2 separate regions of the Homo sapiens genome follow, and region 1 is linked to region 2. The links come from fine-mapping of genetic effects on gene expression. Tissue or cell type: whole blood. Region 2 holds a variant in brackets; the other region holds the start of a gene. All regions are shown on one strand. Distances are from middle to middle.

Region 1 (10,664 bases), 290 kb after region 2:
GGGATTTTTGAATGTTCTTTTAACAGATTATTCTATTATATGCCCCCTCTTGGTGTGGCAATCAGTGTGATATGTACTATCACAATTAAAAATTAACAAAAAAATTTACAAGAAATAAAATGATTTGGTGGATGTTTCCTTTGTATAGCAGTTTGCAAAATGTATTCTGCTGTGGGCTCTTGAAATAGATATTTTATGAACAGGTATAAAATTCTCAGGCCTGTCATGTACAATTGCTACAATTGATTTGTTAAATGGCTGCCATTTTACTTGGGAAAATATTTGTGTTGTTTTTTCTGCTGATAGCAAAGCTCCATGCCAGGAAGGCATTTGCTCATTCCTTGGAGCTGGCCTCACAAAACAATTCACAGCAAAATTAAAGCAACTTAAGAAGAAACTTGAAAATCAGAACAACCATGTGCTTAAGCAGGAGAAGACCCACTAATGTAAAACGGAGACAAAAAGCCCTAATTAAATGCCGAATCAAACCAACTCTACTTTCCTTTTTCTTTTTTTTCTTTCTTTCTTTTCTTTTTTCTTTTTCTTTTTTTTTAGGGAGAGAGTTTTAACCTTTTAGTGATTCCCTTATTCTGAGAAACAAAAGAGAGGGAGTTGCAGAGCACAGAACTCTGCAGACAAAATGTCCCAAATTTCCACCTTCTATTCAGCAAAGGGGACGAGGAAAAGAGGATTTTACCCAACCTATATGTAGGGATTGTTTTCTTAAACTACTGACAACAGTGCCAGAGAAAACCCACGCTGAACGCCTCCTTTTGACTTTCTCATCGGGAGTCTTCTCTTACCCGTCAGATTCTGGTCCAGAAGTCCCCCCTGGCAGCTGTCACCCTACGGATTTGCAGAGATGAACTCTCTTACTGGGCCTCCAGTGGAAGTGAGAAGGAAGCTGATTTCTGCAGAGGAAGACAGGGAGATGACAGGTTTCTTTGATAGATGTTTGAATTTTGTTTTTCTAGGGCAAGGCAACTCATTTGGTGGACATAACAGGCAATCTGGTCTCCACACAGACAATCCAGATGGTTGTTACGAGTTGAGAGGAGCTGGCCATCGGGAGGCTCAGGCCAGCTCTTTTATTACAGACCATCTTCTCCCCACAGTCTGCAAGCTGCATGGTTTCCTCTGAAGGACTGCGTGTTTAAAAATTCAAACATCCATACGACTCTTTATTTTCAAAAATTAAGTGCTACATAGAAGTATGCTAAACTCAAGGCCATGAAATACTATCCAGTTTTGCCATCTTCCTAAGGCAAAATGCTCATGAGTTGGAAGCATGGGACACATTAATCAACATAGAGCTAATCCTGGCTCTGACCTTAGCTCACTGTATGGCCTCAGACCACTCACGTCTCTTCTCTGGATTTTATCCACCTCCAAGTGTAAATAGTCTTGGGTCCCTATCAGTTTTGACAGAAAATGATAGGTTTAATTCAATAAGTCTGTCTCAATTCGAATCACTGGGTTTTTAATTAGTACAGTAGTCTTTCCTTAATTACAGGGGATACATTCTAAGACACCCTGTAGGTGGCTGAAACCACAGGCAGTACTGACCCTATTGCCATCAAGTGGAACATGTTTCGGTTCATGTCTTCTATCCACAAATGTAGAGCCTTTTTCATTTTAACTAAGCACTTAACACGCACCGCAGCTGTAACTTTTGCAGTTTGAGGTGTGACAGCAAAACTAGCATGAATTTCTTTTTTTCTTCACAATTTCTTGAGTAGAAGACTGAATCTTAGCAGCCTCAGCACACAATTTTTTTTCTTTCCTGAAGCCGAGAACTTTCCTCTTTTCACTTAAAGGCAGCACTCTATGGCTTCTGTTTAGTACATCGACGTTGCCAGCATTACTACTCTTGCGCTCCAGGACCATTATGCAGTAAAATCAGGGTGATCTGAACACAAGCATGGTGGCACCACCATAGTCGATCTGATCTCTGAGGTTGCTGCTCAGTGAGTCATGAGTGGGGAGCATGGATAGCGTGGATCCGCTGGACAGAGGCTGATTCACTTCCCAGGTGAGATTTCACTCACATGACGCAGGACAGCGAGCAATGTAAATTTCTGAATTGTTTATTTCTGAAATTTTCCATGGACTATTTTAGACCACAGTTAACCAAGGGTAACTGAAACTTTGGAAAGCGACCCCTAGAAGCGAGGACTATGGCATGCACTAGATGCCGGAAACTGACAGCTACATGCTACATGCTCTCAGGGAACTCAAAAAATGCACTACTATCATCTGTATTTTAACCTTGATACTAAGTGTAATTTTTAACAGTGTGAAGCCAAAAAAGAGGACTTGAAAAATCATAGACATTCTGAAGCACTGACTAATTAGAGGACTCAATCGACACTTCCAGAAATACCTGGAACCCAATACAATGCTAAACAATCCAAGCGCTAAGCTAGGCTAAGCCAGTTTGGCAAGGGGTGAAGGTGAAATGGGTGAAGAACCTGAGAGTGCAGAAGGAGTTAGAGAAGCTCTGTTTGCAAATGAATCTAACTACATCTTCCTTTACAGGAATGAACGTGGAAGTGTATCCAACTGGAAGAATAAGTCCAAACCAAGGAGATTTTGAGAGTCAAACTTAGGGAAAACCAAGAAGAAACTAAAAGTCCAGAGATTGAACCACCAAATGTAAGAACTAATCTCCTACTAATAGGAGGAATCAACATGTTCTTTCCAACAGACCTGTAGCCTCTGATGGCACACAGTGTCACTGAGATCAGCTGGGTGGTCAGGTGTTTGAGCCACCTTGAAACACCAGCAGCTGAGGAAAAGAGCTCCTGCTGCACCTGCTGGGAGCGGTGGGGTTGGGGCTTCCCACTTCCCGAAGCCCTGGAAAAGGGCACCCAGACATTTTACAGAATCCTTGAGATGGAAGGTGAGTTTTCCAGGCCATTCCACAGGTTAAGCCTGCTGGCTGATTCAGCCATACAGGAGAGTTTGCCTGGGAATGGATACCCCAGTGGCTGCTACTTTGACTGATAAAGCAAGCCCAGGAAGATGGTTGAGAATAGTTTGTGCACTCCGATTATCTCTGACATTTTCCCAACTCATAGTTGGAGCAGAGCTATGACAAAGGCATGCATGTTGCTAGTGCAGACATCCTCTTGGCTGTTAAGGGCTGAATTCTGTACCCCCACGTTCATATGTTGAAACCCTAACATCCAATATCTCAAAATGTGCCTGTGGAGACAGGGCCTTCAAAGAGGTTGCTGAATTAAAATTTGGTCATATGGGTGGGCCTAATCCAATCTCACCTGTGTGTTTATAAAAGGAGATTAGAACACAGACACGCCAGGGGGAAGACCATGTAGGGAAACAGGGCAAAGGAACTGCCTGCAAGCAAGAGAGAGGCCACAGAGGGAACCAACTCCGCAGACATTTCGATCTCGGGCTTCCAGCCTCCAGAACTATGAGACAATACATTTCTACTGTTTAGCCACCCAGTCTTCATACTTTGTTACAGGGGCCCTAGCCACCTGTAGACCAGCATAGGGTCAAAAAGCTGTCATGACCAAGTGCCCACACTGGGTCAGCAGTCCCAGAAGCAGTATCAGAATCATCTGTGCAGATAAAACTCTGAAGTCCAAGAAAGAGCCATTGGCACACAAATAAGACCAGAACAAATCAGGGAACCAGGTGATGACCTTTACTGTCAGAGATCCGTGTATACAGTACAGTCAGCTGACAAGAGGGCTCTCAATCGTGGCCACATATTTGAATCACCTGGGGAGCTGTTAAAACCCATGACACTAGGTCACAACCTAGACAAATGAAATCGGAATCCCTGGAGGGTGAGACCCAGGCATCAAGAAGGATTTAAGATCTCTGCAAGATTCAAATAGGCAGCCAAAGTTGAGAACAGCTGGCTTAAAGAGATTACGAGACTTTGTTACAGTATCTCAGCACGGATTACATTTCAATTTAGTTCTTTGCTATTATTCTTATCCTCTGAAATGTTTACACCACACGACGGCCTATCACTGGCTCTGAATTTTATATCATAATCACATAATAGGTTCCTCACTTAAGTTGTAGACATAGGCAAAACTTTTCTTGTTTTTGATGTAAGATAAAGGGAGAGAATGACTGGAGCAAAACAAAAATAAGATAATACAAAATAAGTCATGGGGTGGCATCACATTTTAAGAGTCTTCATTTATGACAAAAGCACAAGCTTATTTGTTGGGGACATAACTTTTGCCATTTTTCCTACCTTGACTGTTTAAGCTCGCAGCAATTTTATAGCTCGCTGTACAGGCTAAGGCTTTTGGTGCCTTTCTTTTTTAAGCTGTGTCAAAATACCTTTAAGGAAAAAAGATGATTTGAAAGGTATAAACCCAACGAAAGTAATAGCACAGTTACAGTTTTTGTGTTTGGGCAGATTTTAAGACATTTCTATGTATTTTTCTGACACAATGGATCCTAAGGACTGCCGTAGACGTAGATTAGTCTGATTTTAGGCCATTGCTTTGCAGCATTATGCAGTTTTTATCTGAAAGACGTTTCAAGAGGGGGAGCTAGTTAGCTAATTAATTAGAGATTGTGACTTAAATTTTTCAGACAAGAGATACTTTCCGAGTTTAAGGAGAACCCGAAGAAAGCTGCGTTTCTGTATCCGTGCCATGGGAAGTCTCCTGTCCTGTTTCCACTCTGCCTTCTCCATAAAGCAGGCTGATTATCAGGGCCCTCACACAAGCCCAGCGTGGTAGCTGATTAAGGCTTGACAAGCAAAAAGCAAACAGGATTTCTAATCATGTGTCTCATAGAAATGGAGCCACAAAAACCCAAAGAATTGCCATTACACCCCAAGTCATGCAATTTAGAGCAACTCAGGAAATAGGTGCACACAAGCAAACCATGTGGTTAAAGCCTTTGGAACTGGTTTGAGCAAAGCTGTAGGTGATTTGACAAAATCATCTGCAAAACCAGATTTCTAACACCTCCCTGCTGTGTATCTCATTTCTGCTGATGTGTGGTGCTTCATAAGATGGGGACGTTAAGCATGCAGCAACTACAGTCATTTGTTCTCAGAGGTGAGTGTTGCAGTTATTTTTATTACTTTTTCTCTTCTTTACTCTATTCCTTGCCTCTCGCCAGACATTCCTTAAACCACCTATCAACTCTCCCCTCACAGTCTTCCTTTTCTGTCTGCATTCTTTTTTTGAACCCAAATCTAACTTAGCTGCTTTTGTGGTTTTTCTATTCACTTTGTCAATTTCTCCCTTGGTTAGAAAATAAATTCCTGTGCACACTCACACCTATGCAAGGGCTGCTCTCAGACATAGCAGGAGGCCAACTTCAGCCTCAGCCTCTTGAGCAAACATTCCCAAGAGGGAAGAGCAACATGGGTGTGTGTGTGTGTGTGTGTGTGTATTGTGTTTATTTGTATGAAATGTCAATAGGGCATACTAATAGCTTGTGAACAAGTATCTATATCAAGATAGACAACCCCAATACATTCGACATGTTGAATATTTAACATGAATCACACATTTCTTGTGAATTGTGAGCAATATAGTTGTACTTATGTGTATAGATATGTGTACATTTATACATGTATATATATAAGGTACTCTCTATAGAGTACCTTATAGCTTACAAAGTGATTTCAAGTACATTTTCTCACTTGACCTAGAAGAGAGAATAAGTAGAATGTGCACATCTTACTCCACAGGGAACCCCTCTTGGAGGCCGGTCTCAGAGCTAAGGTGATAAATGGGGCCAAGAACAGTGGCTGATGCCTGTAATCCCAGCACTTTGGAGGCCGAAGTGGGTGGATCACCCGAGGTCAGGAGTTCGAGACCAGCCTGACCAACATGGTGAAACCCTGTCTCTACTAAAAATATAAAAGTTAGCCAGGCATGGTGGTGGGCACCTGTAATCCCAGCTACTCGGGAGGCTGAGGCAGGAGAATTGCTTGAACCCGGGAGGCAGAGGTTACACTGAGCCAAGATCACACTCCAGCCTGGAGGACAGAGCGAGACTCTGTCTCAGAAAAAAAAAAAAAAAAAAAGATGGTAGATGGAGTGTGACAGTTTGTGTTGGCATTTTGGCTTGGCAGAATTAAAGCCTAAAGTGCAGGGCCAAAAAGAGCCAGATTTGCAGCCTAGCTTCACCACTCCCTAACCATATTGCACTTGGGCATGTTCCTTAATCTCTCTATGTCTCTGAAACAAGAGGAAAAATCTCTTAGAGTTATTTGTGCAGAGTGAGCTACGATGTGTAAAATGATAGCCATTATAGCATGCACGTGAGCATGTACTATTAAACATAAGCAATCATTTGTGAAGCATGTTGAGATGCACATTGTCTAGCACCCCTGAGCCACCTTGGCTGTCCCGTAGCAGTCCCCAAGAGTCCTTTTCTAACATGGTTATGCCAGAATAATTTGGTTAGTTCAGGTGGGGTGAGCACAGTGGGGCAGGAACTGTGTCTAGTGGTTGCTGGGCAGTTTTGCACCTGGAGCTAGCACAGTCAGTTTTGTTGCACAAATGTGTGCCAAGCACTTTTCATAGGTCAGAAGCTAGAGAATAGTGTGCTTGTAAGCAAGCAATGAGAAATAAGATGGGAGCTCTTATTGGGGTTCCCTAGCTTCACCATCTTCAGTAACTTCCATCTTTGGTTCTGGCGGGCTTTTCTGAAGGACAGAACAGAAGCCCATGATAAAGGTGGGGTTGAGAATTCAAAAGAGATCTTTAGAAGTAGAACAGGGCCAGGGCCCATGTTAAGATTGAACTTTAAGGCCAGGCACGGTGGGCTCACACTTGTAATCCAGGAACTTTGGGAGGCCAAGGTGGGAGAATTGCTTGAGGCCAGGAGTTCAGGACCAGCCTGGACATCATAGTGACCCCCTATCTCTGCTAAAATAAAAATTTAAAAAAATTAGCCAGGCATGGTGGTGCACATCCATAGTCCCAGCTACACAGGAGACTGAAGAGAAAGGATCACTTGAGCCCAAGAAGTTGAGGCTATAGTGAGTTGTGATCATGCCACTGCACTCCAGCCTGGGGGACAGAGCAAGACACTGTCTCCAGAGACAGAGAGAGAGAGAGAGAAATGAAACTTTGGGAAGGAATGAGAGTGATCACCAGGTAGTGCTTCTGAGGAAGCTTGCTCTGATGGAGCTGACAAAGTGCCTTTATCTACTATGGATTAAGCATTACAACCCCAAAATCCAAAATCTGAAGTGTTCATAAATCCAGAATTTTTTGAGCAGTTACATGACACTCAAAGAGAATGCTTATTGGAGCATTTCAAGTTTCAAATTTTTGGATTTGGGATGCTCGATGGGTAAGCATAATGCAAATATTTCAAAATCTGACAGAATTCAAAATCCAAAACACTTCTGGCCCCAAGCACTTTTGATAAGGGATATTCAATCTGTACTACCCTACCATGAAAATGAAGTCTCGGGAGAAATGAGTTCTATGCTTAAGACTGAAAACTTACAAAACTTTATTCTTTGTCTAGGAGAGACATGAAAGCTATAGGGAAAGGGATGCAATTATTATTGTTGGTTTTAACCTTTTTGAACCCAGTCTAATTCACAATGAGATTAATGACAGTGTTTATTGAGCTTTTCCCACTTGGCCAACAATATGTTAGGGGTGGCAATCCCGATAACAACCTAAGAAGTAGACTTTCCATTTTACAGATAAGGAAACTGAGGCTTGGAAGGATTGACTTGCCGAAAGGCACAGACAGAGGAAACGGCAGCAGTGCGATATGCCTCTAGATAGTCAATCTGGGGCTTGCCCTCTTCACAATAATGACAGTAGCCACTGCATAAGGGCCTGGTGAGGACTGGAGACAACACATGCAAAAGAACCAACAGATTCTCGGCGCAGTGCATTCATGCATGTACGGATGTCATGTATGAAAGTGCCTGGAAAAGGGCGGCCATTGCACATTCCTTTTGCACTTGGGAAAACTTCATTAAAGTGTACCATGTAGTCAAATGGTTAGCCCGATTTGGTGTATGACTGAGAAATGGGTGATGCCCTCCTGGCCTGAATTCAGGAAACTGCACATCAGGGAAGCAGAGCTAAACTCTTAGGGACCCAGAGTGGAATTGTTTAAAGGCTAAATCACCCCCAAACCGCACGCGGTTCTCGTCAAAGTTAACGGCAGTGGCTCATGTGTGCGTGGACACTGTGTGATCCTCCATAGGGAAGGAGAGCAGCAGTGTCCTCAAGGATGAAGCCCTTCCAGCCGAGCCCCCATTGGTAAAGAACCTGACAGAGGAAAAGATGCTTCTGTTTCTGGGAAAAGGCACATTATACGAATCCAGGGCACTGCCGGAATACAGCCCTATAAGATATATCAGTACATTCATATGCGTGCTCCTATCACCCATCCAACAAATTGAATGAAATTAAGAAAGGAGCAGTCATCATAAGTCATATCTACTCAGAAATGTATATTTAAAAGCAGGCTGCTTTGGACAATGCTTCGCTCATTAAGACTCTTTTTAGGTGCATTGTTTACTGTGTAAACCCTGATTAATTTACAGTTTTTCTTTTTGCCTGACTCATAATTACTCTATGGAAAATACAATTTTGGAGAATACAACATTAACTACATAGGATTGGTATTAACAGTCACGGACCCACTGAAGGCGAGTTTTACTGTTCGCTCAATGAATGTCCTTCAGTATCTCTAAATTAGATGGAAAAGCATCTATGATTTCAGGGCCCATTTAAATAAATTAAAGCCAGAAATGAGTGTGCTAACTTTGCATGGATCCAAACATTTGCCACTGTTTTCCTGTCTTCCCTTTCTACCATTAAATTCAACCCGACCTTTAGAATTTGTGTCCCCCAAGCAGAAGATAGATGATTCCCGTGTATCAACCTTGTATTAAATGCCTACCATGCACTAAGCACTAGGAAAATAGGGAGGAAACAACACCCTGGATACTTTTCTCAAGTAGCTCTCAGTGCAGCGGGCTTAGCATGGAAACAGAAGCAGCAAAACGTTGTGGGAAGTGTCTGTGTAACATGCGGCATGGCTGTTATTTAATCCCAATTAAAAGGATGAGAAAGTTGAGGTTTACTAAAGTTAAGGAACTCCCCTAGGTCCATAGTTAGCAAGCGCTAGAGACAGAATTCCAAACCAAAGCAGTCTGCTTGAAAAGCCCAGTTTTGTCCCACCCCTTCCCTAAGCATTTGTTCAGATGGGAGTGAACAATGCATAAAACTGGCTGTGGCATTCGGCTGACCTGAGATCTAGTGGTGGCCTTATTCCCAGCATGCAAACTCTCACTGACATGCAAACCCTTGCTGACTACTTCATATGAGAAGGCAGCACCATTCCTCTGTCATGTATGAATGCAATTTTCCTGAGACATTTTTATTTTCTGTTGCTTGTTTTTAAATAATTAATGCCATTGTAACAGCAGCCTCTCTTCATTTAGGAGGGCATTTCCACTCTGAATTTCCAGTTCCAAACATTTCAGTTTTCCACCAAGACATCATTCCTGGGTTTGGGATTCCTGAATTTTCTCCACACAGAGGTGACTGCTTTCAGTGGAAAACTTAGCGAAATTGCATTGTTCTCCCTGAAGTATCTGTGTAACCAAAACAATGTTACTGCTATATGACATGTTGTAGGCATTCTCAATACATTTGGAAAATGCAAAAGTAACTGTGATCTAACATCTCAAACTGGCTATGGATTTATTTTCCTGTGGTCAGGTCTGGACCAAAGAGAAACAAGAAAAGCTGGAGTCACACTACCAAAGGCCGAAGCTGAGCAACAGAGCTCTGGAGTCAGCTGCCTGGGTTCAGCATGCAGCGCTGCCGTGGACGATCTGTCTCTCTTGCATATATGACTTACCAGTTTTACTTTCAGTCTCTCCATTTCTAATTAAATGAGATGCAGAAATGCTGGTGCCTTGCTATGATGTTTGCAGTTATTATTTCTAGGAAAAAAAATATTATTGTTACTCAGTATCTGGTACATCAAAACTAAGCCAGAAACGTTTAAAAAGAACAAAAGTATCATTTCTACTTAATTCTCTAGCTACTTGGACAACTGGACTATGCCCCTCCTTTCAAGGGAGGGCAAAGCATTTCAGAAAAGAACTAAGTGCTATTTCTCTGCTTCAGGAATGTCTCCCGTATGTAAAAGAATGTGGCTTCAGGGAGTAGCATGTGTTGTAAAGGTGGATGGGTCTAACTTCATGGACAGCTCTGACATCCACTAGCTATGCCACCTGATGCAAACCACTTGGGCTGTCTGTAGTTTCGTTTATCTTTCTGGAATTGGTAATAACAACCACCTGGCAAGATCACTGTTATGAATACGGAGGATCAAAGTTGTGAAGTTATTTTGTAAAGTGAAATGTTCTGAAAATTGGATTTTAACAGTGTCAGCGAAAAGTAGATTTTTGACATTTATCAAGAGTTCAGCTAATGAAAACAAGTATGGATAATAGTTACATAGAACTGTCTACTTTACTCAGTACTTTAGCATATGCTATTATATTTAATCTTCTTAAAAAGTAGAAAATTATACAAGCCATGTATTACTATTATTGTGGTGGTTGTCGTTCTCAATTACACACTGAATATTAAGACCTCTCAGGTAGCAGCTGGAAGGACATTGTATCCAGTTTCCTGATTGTTTTCAATGGA
Region 2 (10,664 bases):
TCAACACTGGAATTGTACAATCGTCATTTTATATGCTGGGGACCAGGGCACAGAGGCTGAGTGCTGGCAGGGCCATGGCTACCATGGCTAGATGCCCCGCAGCCCCCCGCCCCCACCCCCACACTGCCTTGTGTAGGTGTCCTCTCTATGTGTCTGATGGCTTTCCTGGGACTGGAATCTCCTTTAGGACTGGACTCTAGCATCTTTCCTCTTGGTGATCCGTAAAGGGCCCGCCTTGCAGACACAAGGGATAAAGGAGATGGAAAAGTGGCATCCGGAAATATCCTGAGCACCCACACTGCCACCTGCAGTAGGATCATCCCTGTCACACATGTGACTTCACCCACGCGGCCACCCACAAGGAGAGTTCTTAACTTCACCATTTTTTTAAATGATAAACATTAGATTTTGGGTGTACTGGACAGTAGAAAACAAAAATGTATATAACAGCTCCCGTTACTTATTATGGCTACTTGTATTGATGTGGCTCATGGGCTGCTCTCAGAGTGGATTTCTTCAAGGCGTGATGGACATGAGCTCCAGCTTCCCTCTCTCCTCTCTCCTCCAGTGTGATGCCTTCACCGGTTGGGAGTCATAGTGAACTTCCTTCTTTTCAACATTGCTTTAATGCTTATGATACTTATTTACAAACCACAACTCAGTGAGACAATTACTGTTAGCCATAATTCAGAAGTGAAGAAATCTAGATAAAAGAGTTAAAATGCCTGTTAAAATCAGAGAAGGACATAAACTCATTCTTGTACACTGGAAGTCTCAAACTCTTAATTCTTCCTTGGCCTAGAGATGAGTTTTTTTGGACCACATGATGTCTTCTTGTATAAATTTGAATTTATTAAAAGGTACTTAAAAAGTAGAATATTTTACGTTTTAAATATCCAGATTTCTAGTCTGTCTAGACAAATATCAGATGACCTGGCCACACTGGGCCTTCATTTTCACATGGCAACAGTCGGTACTGATTTTCCTCTGAGCACCATGTATGAAGGTGGCATCTCCCGTGTGCCCATCTCCACCCTCAGTCTGTTTCCCTGATTCACAGCATCTGTCTGGCTCCTGAAGGCATTGACTTTGCCTGGTTATGCTTCAAAAGCGCCACCTCTGTCCGTGGAATAGTCTCTCATAGAAAAACAGCTCTCTCTGTGATCAGAAGGTCTTATTGCCATCAGAATCTGTGGTCTATATCTCTTGAGCTCTGCATTTTGACATAGATTTCAAAGATTAGGAAGGTTATCACAGAGACCTAAGTATGGTTAGACATCAGAAACTCCATTAATTATTAGTTGCATCACCATTTCCATTCATGCAGAAAAATAACTTGATAAAATTTATCTCTTTTTTTGTGGTAAAAACAATCCTCAAGAATGGTCCTAGCCATTGCAATATGAAAAGAAAAAAAAAGAAAGAAATGAAAACTTTAAACATTTAAGTAATAGATAAAATTGCTATTATATGCAAATAACATATTTTAATAGAAAATTCAAAAGAATCCCCAAACCATTAACACTAATGCCTACTATATTCAATTCATTTATTCAACAAACATTTATTGAATGCAGTGGCTATTCCAGTTGCAGTAGGTGAGAAGTGCAGACAGTTATGCTTAGATGGGGCTAGTCTTTTATTTGTTTAAAAATAAATTTGTAATGTGTCTTATGATGACATGAATGCTCTGGAAAATAATTTAAAAAATAAATTTATTCACATATATTTTTTGAAATAGATGGTGATCAGAGAAGGGCTCATAACAATGAGATGACATCTGAGCAGTGCCTTGAAAGAAGTGAGGGAATTAGTGAATAGCTGAGTGGAGTGGGGGGTCATTCTATACTGGAGAACGATAAGTATGAATGGTTCAAGGTGAGGTTGGAGAAGTGATACAGGTTCAGATGACTTAAGCCCTTGTAGCTCCTTGAAGGATTTGAGATGGGGGCCATTCATGGTCTTCACACTCATTGCTGAATGAAGTACAAGATTGAAAACTGAGCAGGCTCTTTTTTACCACCTCAGCTTAGGAGTGTGCAGTGGATGTGGGGGTGTGTTGCTCATCACTCCCCCTGAGGTCTGAGGTATTTATTATCCCTGTTGTTGAAGTGTCGGGTGGCTCCCCGGGACATCCCTCCCCATAAATTTCTCAGATAAAGAAAGCCATCTAGCACAAGGAAATGTCCTCTCCCTAGAAGCTGCCCACTTCTAATGATGGCTGACATGGGAGGAAAAAGACACAGCTCATGCCTCCATCTGGAACAATTCTGAGATGCGATTTCACCTCCAGGGCCCTTGCGGGATCAGCTAAGGCTCTGCTGGAAATGAATCACAGTTCAGTTCAAGTCTTCCCTCTGCCCAGATCTCCACCTCTAACTCCCATACAGGTGAATTCCTGAAGGGCTGGCCCAATAACCTCCCATACCAAATCTGTGACTCGATTTCCCAGGGAACCAAAGACAAGTGGTACATTCTTATTTTTTTTCAACAAGAAGTAGTCACATTCTCCCATGTTGGTGAAAGTGCGATGAGAAATGCAGTCTGTGTGCCTGGAAGAGAAACCCCATTGGCGAGCATTTACAATGTCCGTCATATGTCCCTTTAGATATCTACAAAGATACTAAGTAAGCAAGTTGATGTATGAACCCAGACTTCAGGAAGTATGTCCAGACTGGAGATAGTAATCCTGGGTGGTATTTAAAGACATGGAACCAGGTGGTATTACCTAAATGCAGGTGGAGAAGAGAAGAGATGCAAGAACTGAGCTGTGGGGCACACCGATACTTACAAAATCCAGGAGATAACAATGAGCCCGGAAAGGAGACTGAGAATTTAAAGATGGGCGTATTCTGTGTGATAAAGCTCCTCAGTAAACGCACTAAGAGACTCCCACACTTGTACACAAGGAAACATGTAAAATGGACACTGCAACATTTCTTTTTTTGTAATACAGAATAATGGAAATGATTCAAATATTCAGCCACATAAGAAAGGATAAATAAATCATGGCAAAATCGTAAAGTGACATAGAATATAGCAGTTAGAACCTGTGGGCTTGCATGGCGTGTGTTGATATGGATAAATCTCAAAAACTTAATGTTGAGTGAAAATCCAGGTTTCACCAGTATCCATTTAATATGCTACTATTCATAGGAAGCTTTAAAAGCATTCAAAATACACCCTAGATTGCTTATGGACACACACTTGTGTAATAACCATCTGCACATGCGATGCTGTACATTCTGCAGTGGGGGAGGGAATGGGAGTTAGTGTGCATCCTGCCTGTCATACATGCTGCCCTTTGCTAGCCTTGTTGTTGCTGTTGTTGTTGTTTTGTTTTGTTTTGAGATGGAGTTTACTCCTTTACCCAGGCCAGAGTGCAGTGGCATGATGTCAGCTCACTGCAACCTCCGCCTCCTGGGTTCAAGTGATTCTTCTGCCTCAGCCTCCCCAGTAGCTTGGACTACAGGCACGCACCAGCACGCCTGGCTAATTTTTGTGTTTTTGGAGATGGGATTTCACCATGTTGGCCAGGCTGGTCTCAAGATCCTGACCACAAGTGATCCACCTGCCTTGGCCTCCCAAAGTGCTGGGATTACAGGCGGGAGCCACCATGCCTGGCTCCCTCGTAATGTCTGAGGTATTTTATACAGAAAGACACCTTCCCATCTTACTATTATAGAGCCCCTCAAATATTAACAAAGTCAGCCCTGTTAGGTGTCATTTGTAACCACAAATTGAAAATCACTGGTAGCCAGTACCTTTGATTCACTTGTGTGTTGCCAATACATCATGATGATTACAGTAATAATAATGAAAATGATTGTAATGATGATATACTCTTTGTTTAGCCTACATTGTGGTGGACACTTTGCCAAGCCTTCTGATGCATTATTTTATTTAATCCTCTGTAGGATACCAGAATAGAGAGATGATTATTACTCTTATTGTGCAGATGAGAAAACTGATGTCTAGAGAGAATGAATAAATCCCATCTTTCACAGCTGGTAAGCAGCAGAACCAGAATCTATCCCATCATTGTTTTCCTCTAGAGAAAATATTCACCCTTGAGAAGCTTCACCCTCTCTCTGCACAGTGTGAGCCTCAGACCATGTGTTCGGTTATTGTCTGTTAACTAAAAGTGAACCACCAGAACTGGAGGTGCCTGCAAAGGCCAGCAGGAGTAACAGCATGCGTCTGACACAGGTCCCAGAGAAGTTCTGGCTTCTCTTCTTTCTGAAGTACTGAACCACAGAGTAGTAGCAGAAATACCGTCAAGCCTTCTTTCCCATGTTCCCACGGCAGTGAACCCATTCGTGCTCTGAACACTTTCCATTCCACATATTTCTTCATAACAGAAGGTGTCAAAATGCTCCATGCTTCCTCTTTTGGGGAAATTAACTTAATTCAATTGAACTGCACTTATAATCACAGACGGGAATGACCTCAGAGAACTTCATTTCAACCCTCTCATTTTACAGTGGAAAGGAAAACCCCCAAATTTAAGTGACGTCCTTGTTCCATATAGCACCCTTCCTTACTGGAACCCAGCGACTCTCAGTTCTATTTGCAATGGAGAACCACCTGGGGAATTTGAAAACATTCTGCTGCCCTGGCCACATTTCCACATACTCTGATTTAATTGGCCTGGGGAGGGACTTGGCTTTCGAACTGTCTTCATCTCCCAGGTGCTTCCAATATGCAGCCATGGTGGAGAACCTCTGCTTTTTGTCTCCTTCCCTGGCACATTCACATAAACACATCTTTGATCTTGCTGGCCCAAAGAGTAATGACTGAAGCTGTGAGCTTATTTTACCAACAGAAATGGGACTGGTTGGGAACAAATTGGGCAATGTTTGCTCTTCTAAAAACCCTCTGAGGTTGTTCTTAGGAGACTTTTCCCCCTATTTTTCCATAGACAGGTCTTCTGATATGTTAGGTTTTCTTCAGTGCATTTTTTGAGAGGTAAAGAAAATAAAAAAACATTGTTTTTATCAGCCACAAATGGAATATATTTGGGAGTAATGGCAGCTCAGAAAGTTAAGGATTGGATTTAGTTATATTTTAATAATCTGTAAAAGCCTAGCTCCAGCTAATAGAATGCATATTTTATTTAAAGCAGGCATTGTCAAACTTCTTCTGTAAAGGGCCAGATAGTAAACATTTTCAGCTCCACAGGCCATATGGTCTCTGTTGCAACTACTCAACTCTGCCATTGAGGT[G/A]TGAAAAGCACCCACAGATAAGACATAAACAAATGGGTGTGGTTGTGCTCCAATAAAACTGTATTTAGAAAAACAGACAGTGGGCTGAATGTGGCTCATGGTCATTATTTGCCAACCTCTAAAATGTCAGATTAGAAAAAGTACTGTTTGATGATGCTCCAACTCTAACAAAGGCCAAAATAGAATTTAAATGTTTTGCTTAGATGGTGGGGGTTTCTGAACTTAAGAAAAAATCCCTAATGTTGTTTTAATATTTGACTCGGGTGTCCAAAAGCTTGCAAGACCCCAGTAGAAATTAAACAGAGTTTATTTCAGTGCCTTTTGAGCATCTCTGTATCTTTTTAATACATCCTACCTTTGGTGCTATTTACAAATGTTTCTTTTTTCATCTTAATAAAAATTTAGCAGAAAAATCTGCTAAACCCCAGAAGCGTCAGATAATTACTTGGAAAATGGAAAGGCAGTGAACACTAGTCATTTCATAATTTCAATTTTATGATTACTTTATTACAGAAAAACTTTCATAATAGTTGCATCATTTGAATCAGTTTTCGGTTTCAGCCCAAACCACGGGCACTTACGAAAACCTACCCTAACTTGATTTAGGTCTTCGAGCAAACCTAGAAAAATACTTACTAGAATGAAAAGAATCCTTAATGTGTTCTAATCATTGCTATGAGAGGTTGGAAGGCAGGCAAATGCTTTTCCTTTGCTGTTCTCTCAGCTTATAACATCCTGCCTAATTCTAATAGCATCTTTCAGGAATAGAGGAAGATGGCATTGAAAGTTAAGTGTGACTTTCCACTGCAACTCGGCAATGACCACTCACTTTTGCATTAATAATGAATGAGTATCTAAAGGTTAGTGAGCGAATGTAGCAGAACCAGCCAGAGGGAGTCATCAGGAGGCATCCCAGCTGAAATACACTGTGCAAGCCTGGGAGGAAAGAGGTTCCCCTGAAAGGCACTATCTGGACTGATGGGTTTTCAGGGAGCCAGTCATTCACTAAACCCACATAGGCTGGGAAGCAGATAAAGAACTGAGGCTGCAACGTAATCAGATGGGATTTGGGAACAGAAAGTCAGATAATACCATGTCTGTCTGGACCTTAGACCAGGGCTCTAGAGAGTTCTCTGAGTAAAACGGCAAAGTTTGAGACTTTTGCAGGACACTTTCAACTCTCAGCTGCCTTCAACTCCTTATTGTCACTTTTGCTTTGTTTACTTTACTGCAGTTTTCATTTATGTTTTCTCACACCTGTAATTCCAGCACTTTGGGAGGGTGAGGTGTGTGGATCACCTGAAGTCAGGAGTTCAATACCAGCCTGGCCAACATGGTGAAACCCCGTGTCTGCTAAAAATACAAAAATTAGCCAGGCGTGGTGGCAGCCGCCTTTAATCCCAGCTACTCAGGAGGCTAAAACAGGAGACTTGTTTGAACCCAGGAGGCAGAGGTTGCAGTGAGCCGAGATCACACCATTGCACTCCAGCCTGGGTGACAGAGCAAGACCCTGTTTCAAAAAATAATAAATAAATAAATAAATAAATAAATAAAAATAATAAATAAAATTTAGGCAGCAAGAGTAGGAGGTTTGATTGTGTGTCTGTTGCTTTAGTCTCAGGAGCCTAATCAGCCAGCCATGAACTCATGGTTATAGGGCTACAGCATTCCTATGACTTTTAAAGTCCTAAGATTGGTTCAGTCAACAACCCAAAAAGACTAATCATAGTGTGAAATATCTACTTCCTGTGAACTGTACATTGTCATATTTCCACTTTAGTGCTGGGGAGCGCTAAAAAAAACCATGTTGGTGCTAAAGAAAATACCTTCTTCTTCATGTCAGCAGGGAAAGTTTGAAAATTAGCCTTGTTTTCTACCAGCAAACTCTATTCATTTGTTCTTTCATTAAATCCTATTACTGAAATTCTGCTGGGTGCCATCACTGTACTAGGCATGAGGAATACAGTGGTTAGGAAGATCCTGTCCCTCTCCCAAGGAGTTCCTAGATAGGTATGGAAGGATGACAAGAAATAAATAGCTACCGCTATTATGAGTCGCATGGTAAGAACAGGGTGCTGGGACAATTCATAGCAGTGAGTTTCTCCCAAATCTAGGAGTCAGAGAAAATTTTCCAGGCGAGTGATATCTATCTGGAGACTAAGAGGATGAAGATGTCTTTGTTTTACATCTGAAAATTTATGTCAATTTTATCAGCTGATTTGAATTTTTGAATGAGGATTGCAACTAGAATAGATTGTTGGTTTTTACATTAACTCTTCCTCTAATAAAGTTGCCATTTTTGTCCCATCACAAAGAATGTATATTAAGTAACATTATATGATTTTTAAGAAAATCATGTATGATTAAGTAATATTATACAATTTTTTAAAAAATCATATATGATTAAGTAACATTATACAACTTTTTGTTCAAGAAAGGACAAAAACATTACTGGAGAAACTAAGCATCTGGTTCATCCGATGTCATTAGACACTAGGGCCTACAGATAAGAAAATGATGATGAAGAAATGGCAGAATTTCCCCTTGATGATGGGAGGCTTGGTCAAGGCCAGGAAGACCACTATGTAGGGACCGTGTGGAAGAGACCTTCAATACTCTGACTCACTCCCCAACTAACATAACTGCTACTGACTGCTGGCACCATATTTTAATCAAACTTTTTCAAGATTCATCCATCCATTCATTCAAAAATATTTTTAATGAAATATTTCAATAACAACTGAAAGTGAAATGGCCCTTTAAATGGAAGAGCTCATTTTTTGTGAGTGAAGCAAACAGGAGAGTCATTCCCATCAGGGTGTCAGGACCATTCGTGGTTGGCATATGTCAAGTGTTGATACTCAAAGGTGGGCAGAACTAACTCAACCTGAGAAAACAGAAAAAAGTTCCAGATTCAGGCAGGTGGGGAAGAGAAAGAAGAGCATTCTGTTTGGTCCGTTCAGGATAAGCCCAGTGAAAGGACAGGATGTGCTTTAGAAAGAGCGAGCAGCTTGGTTTCTTTAAAACATTAACGTTCTGGGAATAAGGATGGAAGGACAATTTGAACAGAATGTGGGGACATTTTTTCACTTTTGGGGATTTTATGCTTTGATCAATTTGGAATTACTAAAGGACTTTGACCAAGGCAGTGATTCAATTAGTTTGTCACGTAGAAGATTCTTCTGCCAATACAACGGTGAAGGGCTGACCACAAAGACAATAGAGACAAATGTGTGTGCATATGTTGGGGTAGGTGGAGAATAAAATTCAATTGCTCTGTTGAGAGATAGTGCATTGAAAGGATGTATTGAAGGCAATTTTGGGAATTAAAATGTTCAACATTACTTGACCTGTGAAATGTGGAGGTCAGCATGAGGAATCAAGAATTATTATCATTTTCTCATAGAATACATGTTATGGCACAGGGGAAGCCAAGAGAAGCATGTTTAGGGGAATATGTCATGAGATACAATAATCTTAGGTGATGGGCTTCTTGATGTGCCTCAGCTTTCATCATGTATTTCTTCTTATTTCCTTCACTCAGAAGCTGTAATTTATGCAAGCTTCGACTGACTGTAATTCACTTACTGCTCAATGAATATTCCTCTGAATGATCTGTAAAGGCTATTTTGTCCAAAAGCTGTGTCTGGGACAAATGTGATAGTGTCAAGGGATTTCATTCTGGACAAATGCATAAGAAAAAAATTTTAAAAGCTGAACACGCCAAATTTCTTATGATAAAACATTTCTTTAAAAAATAGGAGAAAAAAGTACAACGGCTTTAGAAATACCAGGTGAGGGATGTGTGAACTGATGAGTCTGTGGCTGTCACTTGCCCGTTATCACACGGTAAAGTGTCAGCAATGCCTCCACACCAAGTTAGACAAAGAGAGCCTTTAGAACCTATTCTAATTACTCTAGAGATGCCCACAGAAGGCTGACTCTGCACTCTGTTGATTTATTTGAGTAAAAAAATTAAGTGGTTCAGACATAGGATGGATATATAAGATCAGTCTGGGATTAGCTCACTGCACTGTATTCCTTTTCCTGTGTTCATGGGTCACTTGAGCCAGTGGAGCTCTGTCTATAAGAAGACCTTTGTGCCTAGGGCTGAAGCATGGGGAAATATAGCATGTTCTCCTGTTTTCGATCATTGTGTCCCATCTTAACTGCAGAATGAGTGTTGGAAAGAAATTCTGACTTTGAATTTATCACAAAACACCCTTCAGTGTAGGATCCCAAATACTCTCTGAATGATTAAATAAATAAGTGAATGGATATCTTTCCTCCTGGAATGAAAATGGTATTTAAAGTAGACCTGGGTTTACCTCCCAGCTCTGATCTTGATTAGGTGTAAAACCAGGTGCAACCTATTTGACCCATCTTAGCCCCAACTTCCTCCCTTACCTGAGAAACAGGTAGAGATACCCATTTCATACACTAGTACATAAGGAGCAGAGGTAATATAAGCAATGGACTTTACTCATTGTTTCAACAGTTGGCTTTCAATGCATGGTAGGTCTTACTAGGGTTATAAAGATTCTTTGCCAAGTGTCTGATTCTCTAAGCTTGATATGGTTTGGCTGTGTCCCCACCCAAATCTCACCTTGAATTGTAATAATCCTCATGTAGGAAGGGTGGTGCTAGGTGGAGATAATTGAATCATGGGGGCAATTTCCCCCATACTGTTCTCATGGTAGTGATTAAGTGTCACAAGATCTGATGGTTTTATAAATGGGAATTCCCCTACCCAAGCTTCTTGCCTACCACCATGTAGGACGTACCTTGCTCTTCTGCCATGATTTTGAGGCCTCCCCAGCCATGTGGAACTGTGAGTCAATTAAAACTCTTTCCTTTACACGGAGCTTGCAGTGAGCTGAGATTGTGCCACTGTACTCCAGCCTGGGCGACAGAGCAAGACTCTGTCTCAAACAAAACAAAACAACCAAACAAAAAACCAAAAACTCTTTCCTTTATAAATTACCTAGTCTAGGGTATGTCTTTATTAGCAGCATGAAAACAGACTAATACAAAGCTCTATCATATACCCACCTTGTCAAAAAACAGGAGGAGATGGGAAGAGGGTGAAAATTTTTAAAGGTAAGAATATTGAAGGAGAACCATGGTTGAGAATACATGCTGAGGGAATCTAGAATATTCAAAAGAGAATTGGCACTAGGGATACATGTATCATAGCACCCCTTTCATGGTTTATCCCAGAAATAAAAGCTTTTTTTGGATAAAGGATTATTTGTACAACCATTGATGAGGAGAGGAGCTGACAACAGACTGGAGCGTAGGTAATGTGACACTTCCTCGTGCCAAACTTTCAATACAGCTTGTTGTGGTTCAGCAGCATCAGTGGGATTTATTGGTTTGTTGAAAGTGACAAAAGTTTTCTCAATAGGCAATGATAAACAAAGGAGATTGTTACAATAA

Evidence for each region. PIP is the estimated chance that this variant, and not a neighbour inherited with it, causes the effect.
Region 1: it holds the start of LINC01871, and the variant in region 2 is fine-mapped to the expression of LINC01871 in whole blood (TOPMed, PIP above 0.99).

Annotation. Positions count from the first base shown.
Region 1 is chr2:7,720,794-7,731,457 of GRCh38, forward strand. It overlaps LINC01871 (long intergenic non-protein coding RNA 1871), which reads left to right and starts at 4,986. Exons shown (of 2, transcript NR_183384.1): 1 at 4,986-5,060; 2 at 9,723-9,928.
Region 2 is chr2:7,432,088-7,442,751 of GRCh38, forward strand. The region is part of intron 4 of LOC100506274 (a long non-coding RNA gene); the gene reads left to right. Among named protein-coding and RNA genes, the nearest start is that of LINC01871, 290 kb to the right of the region's middle. The variant G/A (reference allele first, on the strand shown) is at 5,226.